Regions from separate parts of the Homo sapiens genome. Here all the other regions are linked to region 1. The links come from fine-mapping of genetic effects on gene expression. A gene starts in region 1. Each other region holds a variant in brackets. All regions are shown on one strand. Distances are from middle to middle. Region 1 holds the start of RUNX3 (RUNX family transcription factor 3). Region 2 overlaps RUNX3 (RUNX family transcription factor 3). Region 3 holds the start of LOC105376876 (a long non-coding RNA gene). Region 4 overlaps CLIC4 (chloride intracellular channel 4). Region 5 overlaps RUNX3 (RUNX family transcription factor 3).

What was found.
Region 2: its variant is fine-mapped to the expression of RUNX3 in whole blood (INTERVAL, PIP above 0.99).
Region 3: its variant is fine-mapped to the expression of RUNX3 in whole blood (TOPMed, PIP above 0.99).
Region 4: its variant is fine-mapped to the expression of RUNX3 in whole blood (TOPMed, PIP above 0.99).
Region 5: its variant is fine-mapped to the expression of RUNX3 in testis (GTEx, PIP above 0.99).

What each region holds. Positions count from the first base shown.
Region 1 is chr1:24,928,568-24,932,682 of GRCh38, forward strand. It overlaps RUNX3 (RUNX family transcription factor 3), which reads right to left and starts at 1,709. Exons shown (of 5, transcript NM_004350.3): 1 at 1,020-1,709. The coding sequence starts at 1,301. RUNX3-AS1 (RUNX3 antisense RNA 1) reads left to right here and starts at 1,890. Exons shown (of 4, transcript NR_183341.1): 1 at 1,890-3,459. RefSeq lists enhancers at 1-649, 298-477, 650-1,383, 2,823-3,412 and silencers at 948-1,387, 1,588-2,057, 3,728-3,947.
Region 2 is chr1:24,898,572-24,902,686 of GRCh38, forward strand. It overlaps RUNX3 (RUNX family transcription factor 3), which reads right to left. Exons shown (of 5, transcript NM_004350.3): 5 at 940-4,095. The coding sequence ends at 3,551. Among named protein-coding and RNA genes, the nearest start is that of MIR6731, 19 kb to the right of the region's middle. RefSeq lists enhancers at 2,010-2,059, 2,827-3,276, 3,607-3,676, 3,757-3,826. The variant T/G (reference allele first, on the strand shown) is at 2,476.
Region 3 is chr1:24,855,919-24,860,033 of GRCh38, forward strand. LOC105376876 (a long non-coding RNA gene) reads left to right here and starts at 1,164. Exons shown (of 3, transcript XR_947082.3): 1 at 1,164-1,548. The variant G/T (reference allele first, on the strand shown) is at 1,625.
Region 4 is chr1:24,747,827-24,751,941 of GRCh38, forward strand. All of the region lies in intron 1 of CLIC4 (chloride intracellular channel 4), which reads left to right. Among named protein-coding and RNA genes, the nearest start is that of CLIC4, 4.4 kb to the left of the region's middle. RefSeq lists a silencer at 1,654-1,733. The variant C/T (reference allele first, on the strand shown) is at 1,742.
Region 5 is chr1:24,905,292-24,909,406 of GRCh38, forward strand. RUNX3 (RUNX family transcription factor 3) reads right to left here. Exons shown (of 5, transcript NM_004350.3): 4 at 1,968-2,126. Among named protein-coding and RNA genes, the nearest start is that of MIR6731, 12 kb to the right of the region's middle. The variant C/T (reference allele first, on the strand shown) is at 2,374.

The DNA.
Region 1 (4,115 bases):
CTGATTAAGAAGACCAGATTTCCTGTCAACATCCTGTCTTCTTTTAATTTCAAAGACTCCTTTTAAGCTCCAAGTGACAGTAAAACCTCCGATCTGACGATTAAAGTCACACGGGCCTCCCGCCCCTCCCGGCGAGATTTCCCCCACTGGTATTTTAAGATGTCACCCGGGAGACCTCAAAGAGCCACTCTTCCTTTTTTTCCCATTTAGAGTCGTCTTAATGGGAGCAGGGACGGCCTCAGCTTCCAGCCACCTCGGGCAGCACCACCCCCAGCCGCCGGCCCTTCCTGCCCTGCCCTTTTCTCACGGCAGCTGTGAGAGGTTTAGGGGAAAACCGAGGCGTTTTCGTTTCATCTCGCTGCCCCCTTAAAAAAATGAAAATGAAACAGTCGCCTACTCCCTGGCATAAAGAAAAAGGTCCTCTAAATGGCTGGGGGCTGCCAGGGTTAGGGGTCCCCCAATCTCAACTCGCCATTCGGGACGCATAATATCCCCGAGCAAACGTCTGGAGAGCAGTGCCCCGATCCCGGCCTAGCGCCGTCCGGTAAAATTTCGGAAGCCCGAGGGTGTGAGCAGGAAGCTTTTGCGAAGCGGCGCGGGAGGAGGGGTGCTGGAGGCGGAGGGTAGGCCCTTTCACCGTTCGCACCCCACCCGCGGTGTCCTTGCCCCTGTCCCGGGATCCTCTTCTCCGTTACCCGCAGGGCTGTATCTGAGCGATCCGGGTTAGGGGGGCGCAAAACCCCATCCGCCCATTTCCGCACCAACGTCTCTACGCAAGGCGCCCCAAAACCCAGGTGGAGCGGGGCAACCCCGTTAAAAGTCATTCCTGCAGGGCGCATCCAAAACGGAACGCCGAGGTCCCGGAGCCGAGCGCGCAGCCAGACTGAACCGGGTGCCCGGGTGTCGCCGCGGCGTCTCGGGCACCTCCCATCCCCACTGCTCCCGAGGCTCTGGCTCCCGCAGCTCAGACGCCCGGAGCCCCAGGGCCGGCGCCCTCCCGCCCCGGGTCCCGCACTCACCTTGAAGGCGACGGGCAGCGTCTTGTTGCAGCGCCAGTGCGAGGGCAGCACGGAGCAGAGGAAGTTGGGGCTGTCGGTGCGCACGAGCTCGCCTGCGTGGTCCGCCAGCACGTCCACCATCGAGCGCACCTCGGGCCGGGCGCGCCCTCCGGGCCCCACGGCCGCCTGCGCGCTCAGCGCGCCGCTGTTCTCGCCCATCTTGCCGCCGCCGCCGCCGCAGGGGAAGGCCGGGGAGGGAGGTGTGAAGCGGCGGCTGGTGCTTGGGTCTACGGGAATACGCATAACAGCGGCCGTCAGGGCGCCGGGCAGGCGGAGACGGCGCGGCTTCCCCCGGGGGCGGCCGGCGCGGGCGCCTCCTCGGCCGCCGCTGCCGCGAGAAGCGGGAAAGCAGAAGCGGCGGGGCCCGGGCCTCAGGGCGCAGGGGGCGGCGCCCGGCCACTACTCGCCAGGGCCCGCCCGCTGCGAGGCCTCGCTGGCCCGACGGCCGCCCGCAGCCTGCCCGGCTAGTCCCGCATCCTCGGCGCGCGGCCCCGCGTGCGGCCGCCCCTCGTGGCTGTCCCGGCTGCCTGGGCCGCGGCGGGGCCCGCGCGGGGCTGTGCCGCTGCCGCCGCCTCCCGCCCCGAAGCTCGCCCGCGGCCGCCCCGACTCCGCGGCCGCAGCCCCAGAACAAATCCTCCAGAATCAAGTGGCGGGGCCGCGGCCGCCCGCGCGGGGTTAGTACCCCCGGGGCCCGCGGGGCGGGGCTGGCGGAGCGACGCGTCGCACAGCCAATCGGCGGAGCCCCCATCGCGGGCACCTCGGTGGCGTTCGCGGGGAGGAACGGGGCCTGCCGGAGGCCGCCCAACGGGGAGGGGCGGAAGGCGCCACCCCGCGGAGGAGGCCCCAGTGCCACAGCCCAGGGCCCCCGAGAGCTCTGGGAGCCCGGGGCAAATGCTAGAAATTTGCTTAGAACGTCCGGGTCCCACGGAAGGCGCCCTTGCCGCCCTCTCTCGGGTCGTAGCTCCCTGACGCTGGGGCGCAACCCCTTCGCTCCTCCTCCCCGCTGGCCGCGGCCGGGCTTCCCCAGCTCTTGCTGCTTCGGGCCTGTGACTTCTGCAACCCCGGGCTGGGGGCCGCGGGGTCTCAGGGCCGGTGACGCCGCACTGGGAGCCGCCCCAAAGAGGTTACTCACCTCCCTCGTCCCGCACATTATTCTGACCCAAGAGCCTCCACCCCACACGGGATTTTGCGCGTCGTCCACGCCCGGCCGGCGGCCTTTGCTGCTCCCAGCCCTGCGCGGCTTTGGTCCCAGCCTCGGTGGCCCCTGTGCCAAACCGGGGACAGGCGGAAGGGAGTCTCCTAGGGACCCTAAGTAGCCTGGGGCCAACAACCCCTTTCCTCTCTGCTCTCCCCTCAAAACAAGTTTCAGGATCTTGCAGGCCTCGCGGCGTCGTTCTTCGTTGTGGCGGCCTGTGGCTCTTTGAAAAACACGACGAGGCCTGCAAAATGCGTTTTTCTTTTTTTCCTTTACGCATGTAACCACGGTCCTGCATCGTGAAACGGTACGCGCGTCGGTGGCAAAAGAAAAACAGCAGTGGCTGCAAAGCTAAGGGCCCTCGCTTTCAGAGGAGAGAATTTTCTTTCTCCATGCGGGTGGAAAGTGGCCTCTGCGGGTCCAACCCCACTTCTTCTTGGGCCCGTGCGCTCCGGCTGCGCCGCAGGGACCGCGGACAGCTTCGCCAAGGCACTGCCTGCCCGCCCGGCTCCGGGTCCCCGCTCCCACTCCCAGCCGCGTGGCCCAACCTCTCCTGGGCTTCACTGCAAATCACCCCTTCCTCTCCCGCCTCCTAAGTCTGTCGAGCAGACCTAGGGGCCGGCTACAGTTGGGAGGGCAACGGGAAAGATCAAGCCACAATCATTCCGAATTATCGCCCCAGACACCTCCCTAGACTCTGGGGAACGAACGCGTGCTGAGCCTCCCCGCCGCTTTGGAGACGGGGCTAGATTTTCGTTGCCTCCGGCTCTCGACAGGTGCAAAACAATGAATTCCAAGCCTCGGAAGCAAAGAAGCTTAGGATCCGACGGTGGCCGCAAGATCTCATCATGGATCTGACCCCTGCTCAGCGCGCGCCATTTCGTCGTTGCCAAACGAAATCAAGCCCCGCGTGCGCTCCAGGGGCGAAGGACTCTGGACTCACCCCGACCACCGGGAGAGCTGGCCCCTACCCACCTCGGGACCTCACAGCACGCCCTCAGGCCGTGTCGAAAGGAAGGACGGCAAAGGTCCCTTACTGAACCTTTTAAGAGAGCCTGCGCCTGGCAGTTGTCGATTGCGGACCCAGGCCCGCGCGCCCTCGGACGCGCTGGCACGAGCAGCAGAACTAGAGGAAAGCGAGTGATCCAGCCTGGGCGCTCCCACCTCCGGGAACGTCTCCGAGAAGGCGCAGCGCGTCGTGGCCAGGTAGGGCCCTGGCCGGGGGCGGGCAACACGTGCTGCCCTCGAGCAGGTTGCGGGACCATGACCCGCTGTTTCAGGTGGTGGTAAATTCCATTTGTCGAATGGTTTCGGTTTGCACCGTGCCCTTTGCTTGTTCCTCCGCCTGATTTCTCCCTCTCCGCTTACGATGGGTTCACAGACAAGTTTCCAGAGAATGAGGGACTCTTGTGGGCCCTGGCACCTGGCGCAGGGCCCGGCACGGCTCCGGCTCTCCGTAGGGCGCTGGCTCCCCGTGGGCACCAGATCCAAGGGACCAGGGCGGCGGGGGGAGGGGGGGCGGGTGCAGGCCCTTGGGTCCCCAGACCAAGGTCGCGGGGCCGCCTGGCAGGCACAGTGGCGGGAGCCGCCGCTAGTTGGCGCCCGCGCCCTGCCAGCCGCGGAGGTGCGGGCCCGGCCGGGCTACAGATGCGCGCCAGCTGCGGCCCCGGGTGCAGGCGCGGCGACCGCCCCCGAGGAGCTGCCCTTTCCTTGCCATCCATGCGGCCAGGTCTCAGACAAACCGATGGCTTTGTGTCAAACCAAGGCCGCCTTCCTCACCTCTGATAAGATGGACGCCTTCTGTCTTCGCGTTTTCAGGCACCCGGGGAAGACCCACAGAACAGGCTAGCTTGTTCCCAATT
Region 2 (4,115 bases), 30 kb before region 1:
ACCAACCCTGGCAGAGGCTGCCCAGAGCAGACCAACAGAGAAGTTCTGTAGCCACGGCTGAGGTCCTGTCCAGAGATGGACCTGCTGTCTTTTGGGTAAAAGGGGATGCCGGGCTAGGGAAATGGAAGCTTCTTGTTGGGAGCTGAGTTTCAGGCAGACCAACCAAACTGAGCAGGGCAAAGCTTTGGGAGTGGTTTTTGAAGTCGGTGGGCATCACTCAAAAATAAGGTCTGTTTTGTAAAAATTTCCCTTCACAAATCCCAACTGGCCAGGCTCTGGGCTGTGTGTTGGTACAAATCCCAAGTGGACCAGGCCTCCTTGCTGGCAAGGTGGGAGGGGGGCTGTCAAGCCAGGTCCCCACACCATCACACCCATGCTACCATTGTTGGGCTGTGGTCCCAGTTCAGCCATGGACAACCCCAGGGAGACATGGACCTTGATGACACTCCTTCTTTGCACCGCAGTTGTCTCATCTGCAAAATGGGGGCACTGAAGTTGCCGCTTACTCCCAATCCCCACTGCTGCTAGCTTGCCACAGATCTTGAAACACGAGCCTCAGAGGGGGGTTCTCACCAAGGCACTTGGACTCTCCCTCTGCCTCTGCCCCCTCCCGAAATGTGAATCTGAGGAACAGGCATAGGAATTCCTCCCAACACGGCTGGGAAGACTCACAGCCCGCTCATGATTGGTGGAAGGGTTGTGGCACTTTGAAGACCTATTTGATGCTCTCCTGGGGTCCCAGCCATACAGGAGCAGGCCTCACCGGCTGTCCTGTGGCCAGGGTGGTCTCTGCGGCCATTCCTGAAGAAGTTGGAAGCAAGGAGATGAAGGTGCTGGGTGTCTCTGTTCCTGTTCCTCCTGGGCAACAGCAGGAGGTCTCCATCCTCTCCCCCACCCCACCCCACCTCCATGCATAGCCCTAGAAACCGGGCACTGGACTCCTTCCACACATCTCAGAGTTATATTATTGTAACAAATCAGTCAAAATTCCATTTTACAGTTAAATAGTACAGAAGACAGTTTACTGTACAAGCAAGTTGTGCGTTAAAAACAAACACCAAGCAAACGATAGTGCAAAGCAGTTTCCACCCAGCTCCATCCTCTCGCCAGCTCTGGGATGGTTTTACATCAGATGAGTGCAGCAGGTGTCACACCTCAGCATGACAATATGTCACAAAAGATTGGTACCCACTACTGACAGGCTCACAGTAACACTATATCAAAACGTCTTCCTTTCCTCGTGCTTCCTACATCAGTGTGTTTGCCTAGTACAACTTTAACGCAGCCTTGTAAATAAGGACCTACTTTTACCAGCCCAGGCTGTCTGTACCCACTTTGGGCCTTACAGACTCAGTACGGCTGCCGTCACTTTTTGTCAGGGGATGGGGGATGGGGTAGGAAGAGCAATTTATTTACTATCCCTGCCTCTCCAGGATCAGGAAGGGTTAGTAATCTGGGATGAGACTACAAAGTGCTGGGCACTGGGAACCCAAAGGTGCCTCCCACGCTGACCTGGGACCAGCTATAACCAGAGAACAGGAGGGAAGAAACTACAAGGACAATGGATTCATAGCTGCTTCCTAAGAAGGCATGGAGAGGCCCCTTGGGTGCAGGGAGTCAGCAACTATTTTGAGGAGATGGAGACTGTTTTTCCAGTGAGGACAGGCCAAGAGAAACCGCAGCAGGAGGGAATGGAATAGGATCACCAGAAGGACTGCCTAACCTGCCAGTGTGTCTCTGGTGTATGGTTCTGGCCGTTGTGACAGGTTGGGTGGGGACAGTGCTCTCACAGAGACAACCAATGAAGAGCATTTTGTAGGGCAGATTTCTGCATCCACAGAGGCCGAGGCAGAAAGTTAAAATACCGCATGCTGCTAGCCTTTATGAGTTCCCTTACGCCTTTTCTAAGCCTTTCTAGGGCCAGAGAACTCTGATGTGAGAATCCATGCAGCCTGGCCCTTGGGCAAGCGCCCACTTTCCCATTTTGCAAAATTCAGGGGCAAGACTTCACCTCGGAACGCAGTGCAGCTGAGCTGCGGCTGGAGAGCCCTTTACAGTGCTTCTGTCCTGCCACGCACAGCCAGTACTCCCCACCTCTCACATCCTGCCCACCTCCGCCCAGCCTCCTGGACAGATGTCCTAGAGCCACAGAGGAGAGATGCCCAGCGTCTCATCAGCGTTTCCCTCGTCCTCCCAGGGGAGCCTGTGGTGCAGGCTGGTGGGATGCTGCCTGATGGGGAGTGTAGCCCCTTGAGAAAGTATTGAGACCCTAATAACCCCACACCCTCAGGAGGCAGCTGGGGGTCCGCGGGGGGGAGAGGGGGCGGGGATGTTGCTTATAATCACAGAGCTATCATAATCACGGAACTATACCTGTAAGAGACCTTGTGTTTGAAAACGTTAGATTAAGCTTCTTTTTCTAAAATCAGTTTTAAAAACTGTTTTGTTTTTTTTTTGTTTTTTTGTTTTTTTTTT[T/G]TTTTTGCTCAGGACTATTTGCTTTCAGAGCACAAAACAGGTTACAGACAGGTGTGTGCCAGGAGTCGCAAGATTTGGCTGGATCCTCCCAGGAGGCTTGGGGGATGGGGCACAGCTTGGCTGGACCCAGGGGGGACAGGGACATTGATGTCTGACCCAAAATGATCCCTCACCTCAATGCCTTCTGCTAGGACCTATCTATCTGGCCCTCCTGTTCTCTCCACAAATGGAATTATGAGACCACCTAGGGGAAAGGGGACCTCCTATCCCCCCTCCCCCGCCCTGCCAAGAGAACAGAGAGTGGATGCGTTGAGCTGGTAAAGTGCATGGAGGAGCCGGTCTGTAGGTGCTTTCCTGGGTTTAAGAACCTGATGCCATAGACTCATCTTCTCTGGGGCCTGGGACCCGTGCGGCTGGGGGAAAGCCAACAGTTAGGAACGGAGGGGAAGCTGGGCTGGGGGGACTGGCTTGGATGTGTTCTCAAACCATCTCTGCCAGCAGCGTGCTGGGTCCTGCCCCATCTGTACAATGAGGGGAACCCCGCTCGAGGGTGGTGGGGGTGGGGGACACTTTCCAGTTCTGACTCAAATCTGTGTAAATGCAGAGGGGGCTGGACCCAGGGGATGCAGGGGCTCCAACGAAGGTGCAGGGGTCGGGAGGTTTCCCAGGGCCTGAGGCTTATCCTGTGGGCCAATGCTGCCTCTCTCTGGAAGAGAGATGGCCTCTGTCCCAGGAGACATGGGTCCCATGCAGCACTGGGCATAGCTGGAGACAGTGAGGTCCTTCCGGGGGGGTGGCAGGAGGCTGATTCCCCACAGAAGTATGGGATGAGACGGCCAGGATCTGGGCCGGGGGCAGTATCCCGGGCCGGGGTGGGGGTGGTAACCTATGCCTCTGTACAAGGATGTGGCTGCACAGATGCAGCCAGAGGCTCCCACCAGCTGGGACCACCCTGGGACCGAGACCACCCTGGAGCGCAGGTCCCATTCCCGCCCGGAGCCTCGGAGCCGGCCCATCACTGGTCTTGAAGGTTGTTAGGGTCCCCGCCTCCAGCGGGAGGAGTCCACCAGGGCGGTCAGTAGGGCCGCCACACGGCCTCATCCATGCGGCCTGGCGTGCTCAGGGCCGTGGGTGAGTTGCTGTGGCTGCCGTCGGCCTCCACGCCATCACTCTGGCCGCCCAGGCTGGGGTTCATGAGGTTGCCGGCGGCGACAGAGGCAGCGCTGCTGGTGCAAGAGGCCAGCATGCGGGTAGGTGAGCGGTCGCCCCCACTGCTGCTGCCGGCCACCATGGAGAACTGGTAGGAGCCAGAGGATGTCCCGTAGTAGAGGTGGTAGGGGGACGGGTTGGCCTGGAAGGGCCCGCTCTGGTTCTGCGGGGCCCCCGGGTAGGGTGGCGGGAGGTAGGTATGGTGGAAGCGGCTGGTGGCCGGCATGCCCGCCACGCTGAGGCTGCTGATGCTCGTGCCCGAGGGCGTGGCGCTGTAGGGGAAGGCAGCTGACATGGCCCCGGGATAATGCATCCTGGGGTCTGGGAAGCGGCTCTCCGTGAGGGTTGGCAGCGTGGGGAAGGAGCGGTCAAACTGGCGGGGGTCGGAGAATGGGTTCAGTTCCGAGGTGCCTGGAGGACAGCAGGGAAGA
Region 3 (4,115 bases), 73 kb before region 1:
TGTAAAAGATCACGTTTTATAGCATCTCCCCTCACAGTGTTGCATTGTAAATTTTTTGCAAATTTAATGAGTTGATTTTGTAGTAGATGAGTAAATTTTGTAGTTAATACTGATACGAACATACTTGTGCACACAGCTTCTTGTTTCTGAAGTAGTTCTTAGAAATCTGTCCCTGGGAATGGAACTCGTGAGTCAAAAGATCTCAACCCATTTGTGGCTATTTCTTCGGATTGTACCAATTTTCAGTGCTACTAGCAAGCCAATGGTAGACCAAGTCCACTTCAGCTCCATCTACATTAGACCTTAATGCCGCCAGACAGAGCAGGGTGCCAGAACATGAAAATGACGCTCTGTCATCAAAATAATGGCAAATAATAAGCACCAGGCACTGTTCTGGGCTTCAATACCATGCTGCCTGGAGGAGACCTTCCATAGTGAAGACTGGAGGCTCTTTTCTGGGAGGCCCTGGATAACAGGTCCTCTGCTGGATGGTTTTAAACCAAACTGTTTTTTTGTTTGATTGTTTGTTTGCTTTCTGAGATGGAGTCTTGCTCTGTCACCCAGGCTAGAGTGCAGTGGTGTGATCTTAGCTCACTGCAACCTCTGCCTCCCATGTTCAAGCGATTCTCCTGCCTCAGTCTCCTGAGTAGCTGGGATTACAGGCACCTGCCACCACGCCTGGCTAATTTTTATATTTTCAGTAGAGATGGGGTTTCACCATGTTGGCCAGGCTGGTCTCAAACTCCTGACCTCAAGTGATCCTCCCGCCTCGGCCTCCCAGAGGGCTGGGATTATAGGCATGAGCCACCGTGCCCGGCCCAAACTGGTTTTGAAATTGCGTTTTCTACCACCTCTTGGAAAGGCAGCATGGGGAGGTGGAGAGGACAGCGGCCTTGTAAGAAGACAGTCTGGTTCAAATTTTAGCTCTACCATGTGCTGGCTGGGTGAACTTGGGCAAGCTGCTTTCCTTCTTGTGCCTCAGTATCCCCATTGGTAAACAGAGATCACAGCACCAACCTCCCAGGGTAGCTGGGAGGATTGAAGAGGCCGCGATGCCGCCTTCCCGGCACCACAGTTCCTGCAGTGCAGGCGCCCAGCAAATGCTGGTTTTCCACCTCTCTGCCTCTCCCATTTCCCCTTCTTGGTTCGCACATTTGACACTTACTGGCTGAAATACTTCCTGTGATATGTCCTTGGTTTCTCCTGAAGAAAAAAAAGTCCAATCTGTTTTTTTTTTTTCTAATTATAATAGCGATGCACGTTCACCGCTGAAAAATTTGGAAAGTACAAAGAAGGAAATAAAAATCACCCGCAATTTCACACCCCAGATCTGTGACTGTGAACATTTGGGTGTGTCTCCTCCTGGGTGTCGGACCACTTCTTATTCTCAGAATTCTATGGGGTGGCTCCGGGGCAGTGTGACACCTCTGTCCAGGCCCCAGCGAGGGGTAGAGTGAGTGCTGGACAGGGGTCCCCAAACGGGCCACTTTTGCTGCATGTGTGGAGACAGATAGGACTTCAAGACTCAGTCCTCGCCACCTGCAGAAGGTAAGACCAGGAGCCTTGAGGGGGACAGTTCTGCCCTGCATTTGCCCCCTTTCCCCGGCAAGTCCCTGGCCTTAGG[G/T]AGTGGCCATCCCAAACTCATCCGGACTTTGGCCATTTCTTGTTTCTGGGCTTCAGTGTCCTTATCTGTTAAGTGAGCAGCTGGGCCCCTTGACTTCCAGGTCTAACACTGTGTGTCATGAGAGGCGTCCGTGGAAGAGAAGGTGCTTTGCTGCTGGTGGGACCTCATGCATGTGTAGGTGTTTATTTCTCTGGGGTCCTCTCCTTCTGCTAAGAAGAGAAGAGGACAAACCTCACGCCAGCCTTCAATTGCCTTCGCCCCTGAACTGTGTCTTGTCAGCCTCCTCAGCTGCTCTTTGAGTACTTGAGTGAGGCAAGGACCTGCTGGGGGAGCTGTTGTGAGGATCCAATGAAACAAGGCCTCTGAGGCAACAGAATAGAGTTGTAATGGCACTATCAGTAGAGAGGGACTGTCCAGGTTTAAATCCCTGGCTGTGTGACCTTGAGCAAGTTACTCAACTACTCTGTGCCTCAGTTTTTTCTTTTTTTTTTTTTCCTTTCCTTTCCTTTTATTTTTTCTTTCTTTCTTTCTTTTTTTTTTTTTTTTTTTTTTGAGACAAGGTCTTGCTCTATTGCCCAGGCTGGAGTACAGTGGCCCCATCATGGCTCACAGCAGCCTTGACCTCCTGGGCTCAATCGATCCTCCCACCTCAGCCTCCCAAGTAGCTGGGACTACAGGTGAGTGCTACCACAACTGGCTAATTTTCAAATATTTTGTAGATACGGGATCTCAATATGTTGTCCAAGTTGGTCTCCAACTCCTGGTCTCAAATGATCCTCCCAAAGCAATGGGATTACAGGAGTGAGCCAGCATGCCCGGCCATCCCTTATCTTTAACCTGGGAAAGATGATCATAACATCAAATAAATTGTGTGCAGATTCAATGAGTTAATATGTGTGAAGCCCTTAGAACAGTGCTTGGCACATAGTAGGTGCTATGTGAGTACTAGATATCATTACAGTGCCTGAAATGTAATAAGTGCTCTGAGATGTGTGCTATTAGAATTGTAAAGAGATTCCAAAAATGGAGGCATGTTTGACATGAAAAGTGAAAGTTTCTCCTGCCCCACTTAATCTCACTCTCCAGAAGAAACCACTGTGAACAGTTCCTTCCCTAGGCCACCTTCCAGATCATTCTTTAGAAATACATCATGATTATGCATATAGTGTTTTCTTTTTACTTTTCTTTAGGTTTTTGTTTGTTTGTTTGTTTGTTTTTTGAGACAGGATCTTGCTCTGTCACCCAGGTTGGAGCACAGTGGTGCGATCATGGCTCACTGCAACCTCCACCTCCTAGGCTCAGGTGATCCTCCCACCTTGGCCTCCCAAAGTGCTGGGATTACAGGCACGAGCCACCACACCTGGCCCATGTTTTCTTTTTAAACCATCACATCATACAGAGTGTTTGCAAGTTGCTATTTTCTTCACAGTATCACGGACATACCTGCATGTCGGGATGTACTAACACATAGCTGTGAAATTTTGCCACCAATTTCCTATTGATGGACAGACAGTTGGACTTGTCTACTTTTTCTCCTTTTTTTAATTATACAAAATAAGCAAGGAACATCTTTCTGTAGAGCTTCACACTCCAAAAGGAGTATCCCTGAGGTTGAGGAGATGAGGGGGACATGAGCAGGACAACGTCACCTGCTCCAGGAGGCACAATCAGAGGCAGTGAATGGCCCACCCTTCTGAGTGGCTCTAATGTGTCACCCTGCGAGGACCCCTGCCCCCACACCCAAAGGAGACAGGGGTGTGCCCAGGGGCATTCCTCTTGGAGGTAAAGACAGAAGTGCAGGGTCGGGAGGGAACAAGAGAACTGAGGTGACCCTGGAGGCTATTTCTCACCTGAAATTATGTAGACATTTTCATTATGAAAATTTTCAAACATACAGAAAAGGTGCAGGAGTCATCTAACAAATCTCCATACAAGTATCCACGCAGCCACCAACCAGATGTAATAGCTGCTGACACTTGCTGTATTTGTTTTATCTGTCTATTCCAAAACATTTCAAAGTAAGCTGTAAACATTTTGACATTTCACTAATTCAACATTGTGTCACCCAGGCTGGGGTGAAGTGGCACAATCTCGGCTCACTGCAGCCTTGACTTCCTAGGATTAGGTGATTCTCCCACTTCAGCCTCCCAACTTGATGGGACCTCAGGTGCACGCCATAATGCCGGCTGCCCAGCTAATTTTAATTAATACACACACACACACACACACATATTTATTTATTTATTTATTTATTTATTTATTTATTTATAGAGATGAGGTTTCACCATGTTGCCCAGGCTGGCCTTGAACTCCGGGGCTCAAGCAATCCTCCTGCCTCAGCCTCCCAAAGTGCTGAGATTACAGACGTGAACCAATGTGCCTGGCCCATAATATTTTTTTAGTTTTGCTCTAACACCCAGGCTGGAGCGCAGTGGCATGATCTTGGCTTACTGCAACCTCTACCTTACGGGTTCAAGTGATTTTTGAGCCT
Region 4 (4,115 bases), 180 kb before region 1:
GAGTTCGAGACCAGCCTGGCCAACATGGTGAAACCCTGTCTCTACTAAAAATAGAAAAATTAGCCAGGCATGGTGGTGGGCCCAGCTATTCGGGAGGCTGAGGCATGAGAATCGCTTGAACCGGGGAGGCAAAGGTTGGAGTGAGCCAAGATCAAGTCACTGCACTCCAGCCTGGGCGACAGAGTGAGACTTCGTCTCAAAAAAAAAAAAAAAAAGATAAAGCTATTATCAGTTATGGCTCTATTCAGTATTCTATTATTCTATTGGAGGAGCTAATCAAAGAAGACAAGAAAAATTAAGTATCTGAATTAGGAAGAGATCAGTGATTAATGCCCTGCTTACTATTAATTTCATCTTTCAGTTAGAATAGCAGAGGGGCGTGTGCAGTTTTCCAAACTTGAGTCACTTGCATCCCCTTTCTGTTTTTCATATTTGTGTTGAGAACCACTGAAAATCATCCTTCCTACCACTAGTTGTAAGCCTTTCTCATTGGGCTTGGTGGCAGAGAATCAGGGTTCAAGTCACAGTTCTTTACTCCTTGGTTGGGTGACCCTAGGCAGTTTGTTTTCACTCTTTAAGCCTTGTTTGTCTCATTTGTGAAATAAGAAATGTTTTCTGCTACCCAGTGATTCAACATAGGCAAACTTTGCACTGATACAGATCAGGTTTTTTGTTTTTTTTTTTTTTTTTTTTTTTAATGAGATGGTGTCTCGCTCTGTCACCCTGGCTGCTGGAGTGCAGTGGCGCGATCTCGGCTCACTGCACCCTCTGCCTCCCAGGTTGAAGTGATTCTTCTGCCTTTGCCTTCCGAGGAGCGCATGCACCACTACGCCTGGCTGATTTTTGTATTTTAGAAGAGACTGGGTTTTACCATGTTGGCCAGGCTGGTCTCAAACTCCTGACCTTAAGTGATCTGCCTGCCTTGGCCTCCCAAAGTGCTGGGATTACAGGCTTGAGCCTCTGTGCTTGGCCCCTAGACCAGTTTGTTTGAAAGGGGAAAAAAGGACAGGTAAAATGTGGTAAAGGGCATTCTTGATCTCTTCTCAAAACCTACGTGTGGGAAATGCAAATGGGGGAAATACCCTTGTAAATATAGTTATTTTGAAAGCAGTGGACCAGGTGTGGTGGCACACTCCTGTAATCCCAGCCTTTTGGGAGGCGGAGGGGGGTGGATCACTTGATGTTGAGACCAGCCTGGGCAACATGGCGAAACCGCATTTCTACTAAAAATACAAAAATTAGCCACGCATAGTGGTGCATGGCTGTAATCCCAGCTACTCGGGAGACTGAGGCAGGAGAATTGCTTGAACCTGGGAGGCGGTGGTTGCAGTGAGCCGAGATAGTGCCACTGCACCCCAGCCTGGGTGACAGAGCAAGACTCCATCTCAAAAAATAAAAATTAAAAAAAAAAAAAAGAAAGTAGAGAGGGTGCAGAGGCTGTGGTTGTCCAGAGTGGTATGTTGAACAGTGTTAACCTGCCAAGAGGTATCTGAGTTTGTAAAAGAAAACTATTTACAGTTGAAGCACATAGCATGTATGGAAATTAGAAATTTGGTGGTGGCGCTAGGGGAAAGGCCAAGAGATGTAATGGGGCTTTGAGCCTACCTGTCTAGCTAGCACTGAGCTTCACATTTAAGAGAGAGAGATGAGCACCTTCTCAAATAGTATGACTGAACTCACAGCTGCATTTCCTTCCTTGTGAGTAGTTTTTGGAGTTGTCTGCCTGTGAGCCCATTAACTC[C/T]CTGTCATCTATATAACAGCAGGATGGTTTTTTTGGTTTGTTTTTGTTTTGTTTTACCCTCAACATCTGGAGGATAGATAGGATGCCCTCTCAAAAGTAAAAAAGGCAGCTGGGCTGTGGTGGCTCACGCCTGTAATCCTAGCACTGTAGGAGGCCAAGGAGGATGAATCTTTTGAGCGCAGGAGTTCTAGACCAGCCTGGGCAACATGGCGAGACCCTGTCTCTACAAAAACTATTAAAAAAATTGCCAGGCACAGTGGCTCACGCCTGTAATCCCAGTACTTTGGGAGGCTGAGGCAGGCGGATCTCTTGAGCCTAGGAGTTCGAGACCAGCCTGGGCAACGTAGCAAAACCCCATCTCTACAAAAAATATAAAAAATTAGCTGGGTGTGGTGATACATGCCTGTGGTCCCAGCTGAGGTGGGAGGATTCCTTTAGCCTGGGAGGCAGAGGTTGGCTGTGAGCCGTGATCGTGCCACTGCACTCCAGCTTGGGTGAGACCCTATCTCTAAATAAATAAGTAAGTAACTAAGCTGGGCCTGGTGGCCCACGCCTGCAGCCCTAGCCCTAGAGGCTGCGGGTGGGAGGATTGTTTGAGCCCAGGAGTTCGAGGCTGCAGTGAGCTTATGATCATGTACCTGCACTCCAATCTGGGTGACAGAACAAGACCCTGTCTCGGGAGGAAAACAACAAAGGCTTATAATGGCAATCATCCTCAACAGTGGAGATGCTCTCTACCCCACTCAGGAGCCTGGTAGGTGTATATATTTCCAGCTGGGAACCACCAACAGATACGGTATATTTGAGACCTTTTAGCAAGGGCATAAGGTCCCTTGTAATCTGGGTTTCTTTCTTTCTTTCTTTCTTTCTTTTTTTTTTTTTTTTTAAGACGGAGTTTCGCTCTTGTTACCCCTCAGCCTCCCGAGTGGCTGGGACTACAGGTGTGCACCACCACACCTGGCTAATTTTGTATTTTTAGTAGAGACAAGGTTTCTCCATGTTGGTCAGGCTTGTCTCGAACTCCTGACCTCAGGTGATCAGCCTGCCTTGGCCTCCAAAAGTGCTGGGATTACAGGCGTGAGCCACCGAGCCTGGCCTACTGCCTGAGTTTCTAATCCAATATGTCCAGTTACTAATTGTGTATCCCAGGATACATCACTTAAACCTGTCTGTGCCACATCTGCACAGTTGGGATATTAGTAGAACAGTCCTATGGGATAAATTAATATATGTAGTATGCAACAATCTTAGAACAATGTCTAGTACACAGTAAGCAAATAAATGCTAGTTGTGTATAATTTTGTATGAATATATATTTATAGGCAGATCTCCCCTACTAGATAGACAGTAAATTCCTTGAGGATAGGGTGTGCATATGGTTCAGAGTGCCTGCAACTTAAGAGGATGCCAAATGTTTGAAATGAGATTGTGCCCTTCTTTCAGAGAATTCTGTTGTTGAGCATTTTGTTGTCAATGTATGTCTCTACCATGCTTTGGAATTAGAAACCACTTACTGAGATCCCGATGGTTGGAGCATCAAAGCATGGTTCTTCATCCTGATTTCTCTAGCCTCCAGTCTCCAAACCCAGTGTAATTTTATGTACTCACCTCTTTTTTTTCTCCATTTAATACTTCCAGTCTTTTTTTTTTTTTTTTTTTTGAGATGGAGTCTTGCACTGTTACCCGGGCTGGAGTGCAGTGGCACGATCTTGGCTCACTGCAACCTCTGTCTCCCGAGTTCAAGCGATTCTCCTGCCGCAGACTCCCGAGTAGCTGGGGTTACAGGCACCCGCCACCATGGCCAGCTAATTTTTTGTATTTTTAGTAGAGATGAGGAGCTAATTTGTATTTGTAGTAGAGACGGGGTTTCACTATGTTGGCCAGGCTGGTCTTGAACTCCTGACCTAGTGATCCACCCGCTCGGCCTCCCAAAGTGCTGGGATTACAGGCGTGAGCCACCGTGCCAGTCTTTTATATATTTACTAGTGTTTCTTCTTGGCTATGTCCAGAATTTGGGGAACCAAGATTTTTGTTTGGGTAAAACTAAATATTAACTCTTGAACCACAAATGAGAGTAATAGAGATGGGGTTTCTCCATCCAGCTTGGCCAACATGGCGAAACCCCGTCTCTACTAAAAATACAAAAATTAGCCGGTCGTGGTGGCGGGCGCCTGTAATCCCGGCTACTCGGGAGTCTGAGGCAGGAGAATCACTTGAACCCGGGAAGCGGAGATTGCAGTGAGCCGAGATTGTGCCATTGCACTCCAGCCTGAGGGACAAGAGCAAGACTCTGTCTCAAAAACAATCAAATCAAAAAACAGAAAGTAATCCCTTTGCGGAGTTCAGTTTTATGGGCTGGAATTTAAACTTGTTG
Region 5 (4,115 bases), 23 kb before region 1:
CTGAGTTTAAGTGACTTGTCTAAGATCATACAGCCAATGCCTGGCAGAGCCTGAATTCCTAGCCTGGTCCAGCTGACTGCAGAGTTCATGCTCGCCCTGTCCTGGTCATCCGAGGCCCTTTCTCTCACCCAAAGGGGATGGGCCTGAGGATGGAGATGCCTGGCTGCCTGTGGCCCAGTGCTGTGGGGGGCTAGCGAGGGACTGGGCCAGGCCTCAGGAGGGAGCAGGCAGAGAAGCAGAAGTCAGCCACTGCCCCACACAGGCTGGGCTCCTTTCCTCCCAGCCCAGGATGGAAGCAGCAGCTGTGCCTGCCGTGGGGCCAGGCATTGATTCCCAAGCTGTGCCCACCCAGCAGTGGATGGGCAGATGTGGGCTCTCCTTCCATGGGGGCTGGTGGACAGGAAGCCACTGTTCACCCCACCTCCTGGATTCTGGCTCCCCCGCTGAGCCCCGATCCCCTGGCCTGGCTCTGTCCATGGCAGAGAAAGGCTGGCTCTCAGGCTACTGCACCTCGACAGATGCTGGCCCATGGGTAGCAGAAGCAGAGGCAGCTACGCGGCAGGGGTGGGCGTGAGCACAGCGTGCAGGGCTCCTTCCGCTACCTCTTGAGAGCAGACCTCCAACTCCTGGGCTCGAGAGCTGAGAGTCTCAAATGCACTAGCTCCTGGGCTCAGAGAGGCTGGGCCTGGGGCTTCTCCCAACCTTGGCGTCTCAGCAGGACCAAGGCCAAAAGTCCTGAGCCCAGGCCAGAAGGGGAGGGGTCCTCTCTTCACACTGAAGGCCTGCATCCAGCCCCTGGCTGCAGCACTATGCCTGGAACAATGTCAGTAGAGAGACCCAGTCGGCCCCCACCTCAGCGTGGCACCGGAAAAGGGGGTGGGGCAGGCAGACCGGTTGGCAGCCCTGTTCCAGGCCCCTTTATCTGTCCCCTCAGAAGTACAGAAAGTTCTTGGGAGCAGGTACTGTGGAGACTGTGGACCTGGTCACAGATGGGCTGTGTGACCCGAGGGTGGCTCTGAACCTCTTAGGCCTCTCAATTCATTCATCTGCCAAGGGGTTCTAACCAGGCTCTGGGGAATTGAGAAAGAATGGGCACAGTCCGTGACGGCAGCCAGCTGCCTGCCTCTGTCCACCCGGCCACCAAGCACCCTTGGCACCCCACTTAGCCCAAGGGCCGGCTGTGCACACAGCCTCCCATGTCCCCAGCTCACTGACTGAGAGAACAGAGGAGAGATGCAGCCGGCAGCCGTTTAGTGAGCGGCTACTATGCGCCAGGCACCTCGATACTCCAGAAGACCTGCCTGAGGCCTGGCTGCAACTGTGCTTGCTGTATCCGTCTAGGCAGTGGAGATGGAGACCCCAGCTCGGTCTTCCCTTCCACCTCAGCTCCTCCTGTTTGGGAGGATGCTCTGGGCAGGGTGGGAGACCTTTCCCAGGAATGCTATGTGCCTCTCTAGGGTTGGAATGTCACTTAACAGTGTGCAAAGTTTGTGTGAGTACAGTAATGTCATTTGAATGTCATCCCAGCCCTGGGTGGAGGCATCCGCCCCAATCCACTTTCAGATGAAAAATCGCAGGCTGTGGGGCAGGGGTGGGGAAACTGTACATGGCAGGGGCGAGTCTGTCACGGCTCCTTGGACAAGTCATGCCCCAATTTTAATAGGGGCACTATGGGGTTAACCCCATTTCCCCAGGCACAGTGAACTCCTGGTATGCAGATCCCTGGGGCCAGGCACCAGGCATGTGTCAGTAATGTCAGTGTTTGCTGAGTGAACGAATGATGGCTAGCACACAGAAAGCCCACAGGAACCGTCTGCAGGTGCCAATGAGCACCAGCAGCTCCTCTACAAAACAAGGGGGTGCAGTGACTGATCTTCGGACAGGCTTTTGGTCTGGGGCAGATTGGACCACATCGAGGCCCTCCACCCCCACCTCACCCCGCTGCAGCCCCTCCCTCCGTGCCGTACCTTGGATTGGGGTCTGGGGCTGGCTGCTGAAGTGGCTTGTGGTGCTGAGTGAGCCTCGGGGGCTGGGTGTGCTCGGTGTCACCCGCATGCGCAGCCGTTCCAGGTCCCCAAAGCGGTCAGGGAACGGCTTGGTCTGGTCCTCCAGCTTCTGCCGGTGCCCTGCAGAGCACAGGAAGCCCATCAGCCGTTGCTTCCCCAGAGTCTCAGTGGAGACAGAAATGCCTCACTCTGCTGGGAAGTTCTTCCTGAGGTCTGACCTTAGGCCTCTGCTGGGAGAACCCTGAGGTCACCGCCAGCCTCTTCACAGAGGTTTTCAAAAGACTTTCTGAACAGAGAATGGTCGTTATGTGCCACCCCACATATCTAAACCTCTACAACACACGGTGATCCAAACCTCTACAACACG[C/T]GGTGATCTAAACCTCTACAACACGCGGTGATCTAAACCTCTACAACACGCGGTGATCTAAACCTCTACAACACACTGTGATGTAAACCTCTACAACACGCGGTGATCTAAACCTCTACAACACACGGTGATCCAAACCTCTACAACACACGGTGATCTAAACCTCTACAACACACGGTGATCTAAACCTCTACAACACACTGTGATGTAAACCTCTACAACACGCGGTGATCTAAACCTCTACAACACACTGTGATGTAAACCTCTACAACACGCGGTGATCTAAACCTCAACCACACGCGGTGATCTAAACCTCTACAACACGCGGTGATCTAAACCTCTACAACACGCGGTGATCCGAACCTCAACCACACGCGGTGATCCGAACCTCTACGACACACGGTGATCCGAACCTCTACGACACGCGGTGATCCGAACCTCTACGACACGCGGTGATCCAAACCTCTATGACACGCGGTGATCCGAACCTCTACGACACGCGGTGATCCGAAGCTCTACGACACGCGGTGATCCGAACCTCTACGACACGCGGTGATCTGAACCTCTATGACACGCGGTGATCTGAACCTCTACGACACGCGGTGATCCAAACCTCTACGACATGTGGTGATCCAAACCTCTACGACACACGGTGATCCAAACCTCTACAACACACTGTTTGGCAGAAGAGGAAACTGAGGGCCAGGTGCAGTGGCTTACGCCTATAATCTCAGCACTTTGGGAGACTGAGATGGGAGGATCAGTTGAACCCAGGAGTTTGAGATCAGCCTGGGCAACTATCGAGACCCCTGTCTGTACAAAAATTAAAAAAAAAAAAGAAAAAAGAAAAACTTAGCCAGGTGGGGTGGCACAAGCCTGTAGTCCCAGCTACTGGGATGACTGAGGCAGGAGGATCACTTGAGCCCAGGAGGTGGAGGCTGCAGTGAGCTGATTGTACCACTGCATCCCAGTCTGGGCAACGGAACAAGGACCCTAGATCTAAAAAAAGGAAACTGAGGCAACAGACATGAGAAAGTGGCTCATGCCCCCAAGGGAGGCAGGGAGATAACCCAGGAGCACTGCCACCCTCTGCCTCCCAGCATCCCAGCCTGCCTTGCACACTGTCTCCCATGTCTACAAGAACAATGGGAGGTGGCCCCAGGAGGGGACTGCAGGCTTTTCCAGCCCTAAGTCACTCTGGGATCCCCAGAACATGCCTTCTTCTCTCTGGGCCTCAGGCAGAAAAATAACTCCACCAGGATGCTGGGCAGAGGTGTAGGGGGCTTGCATGAGGGACTAGACAGCCATCTCTGCCTGGAAGCTGGGGTCAGGGGACGAGATGTCACACCTGGAGAAAACTGCCAGCATTTTCCACTCCCTATCTGCCAGAGCCCACACAGGAAGAATCCCAGCCTCACATCCGAGGACTCAGAGGTGCTGGGAGGGTCAAGGTGGCCAGGCTCCCACCCTCCTGCGGCCTGCTGAGGCCGAGGGACACTTCTGGAGTGATATCAAGCTTGCAGGGACCTCCCCCGCCACACACACTTTTTTAATTACTAATTTTACATTTCACAAGCAACACGTGAATATTTACAAAAATAAAAGCATTACAGATAAGGCTCTGTCCACCGCTCTAAGCTCCTCTCCAGAGTCCCCACCGTGACCAGTTTCTTTCCAGACATTTTTCATCTTCCATGAATGGAAAACGCAAAGTAGGCTTCTCATGGAACTCTCTTGAACAG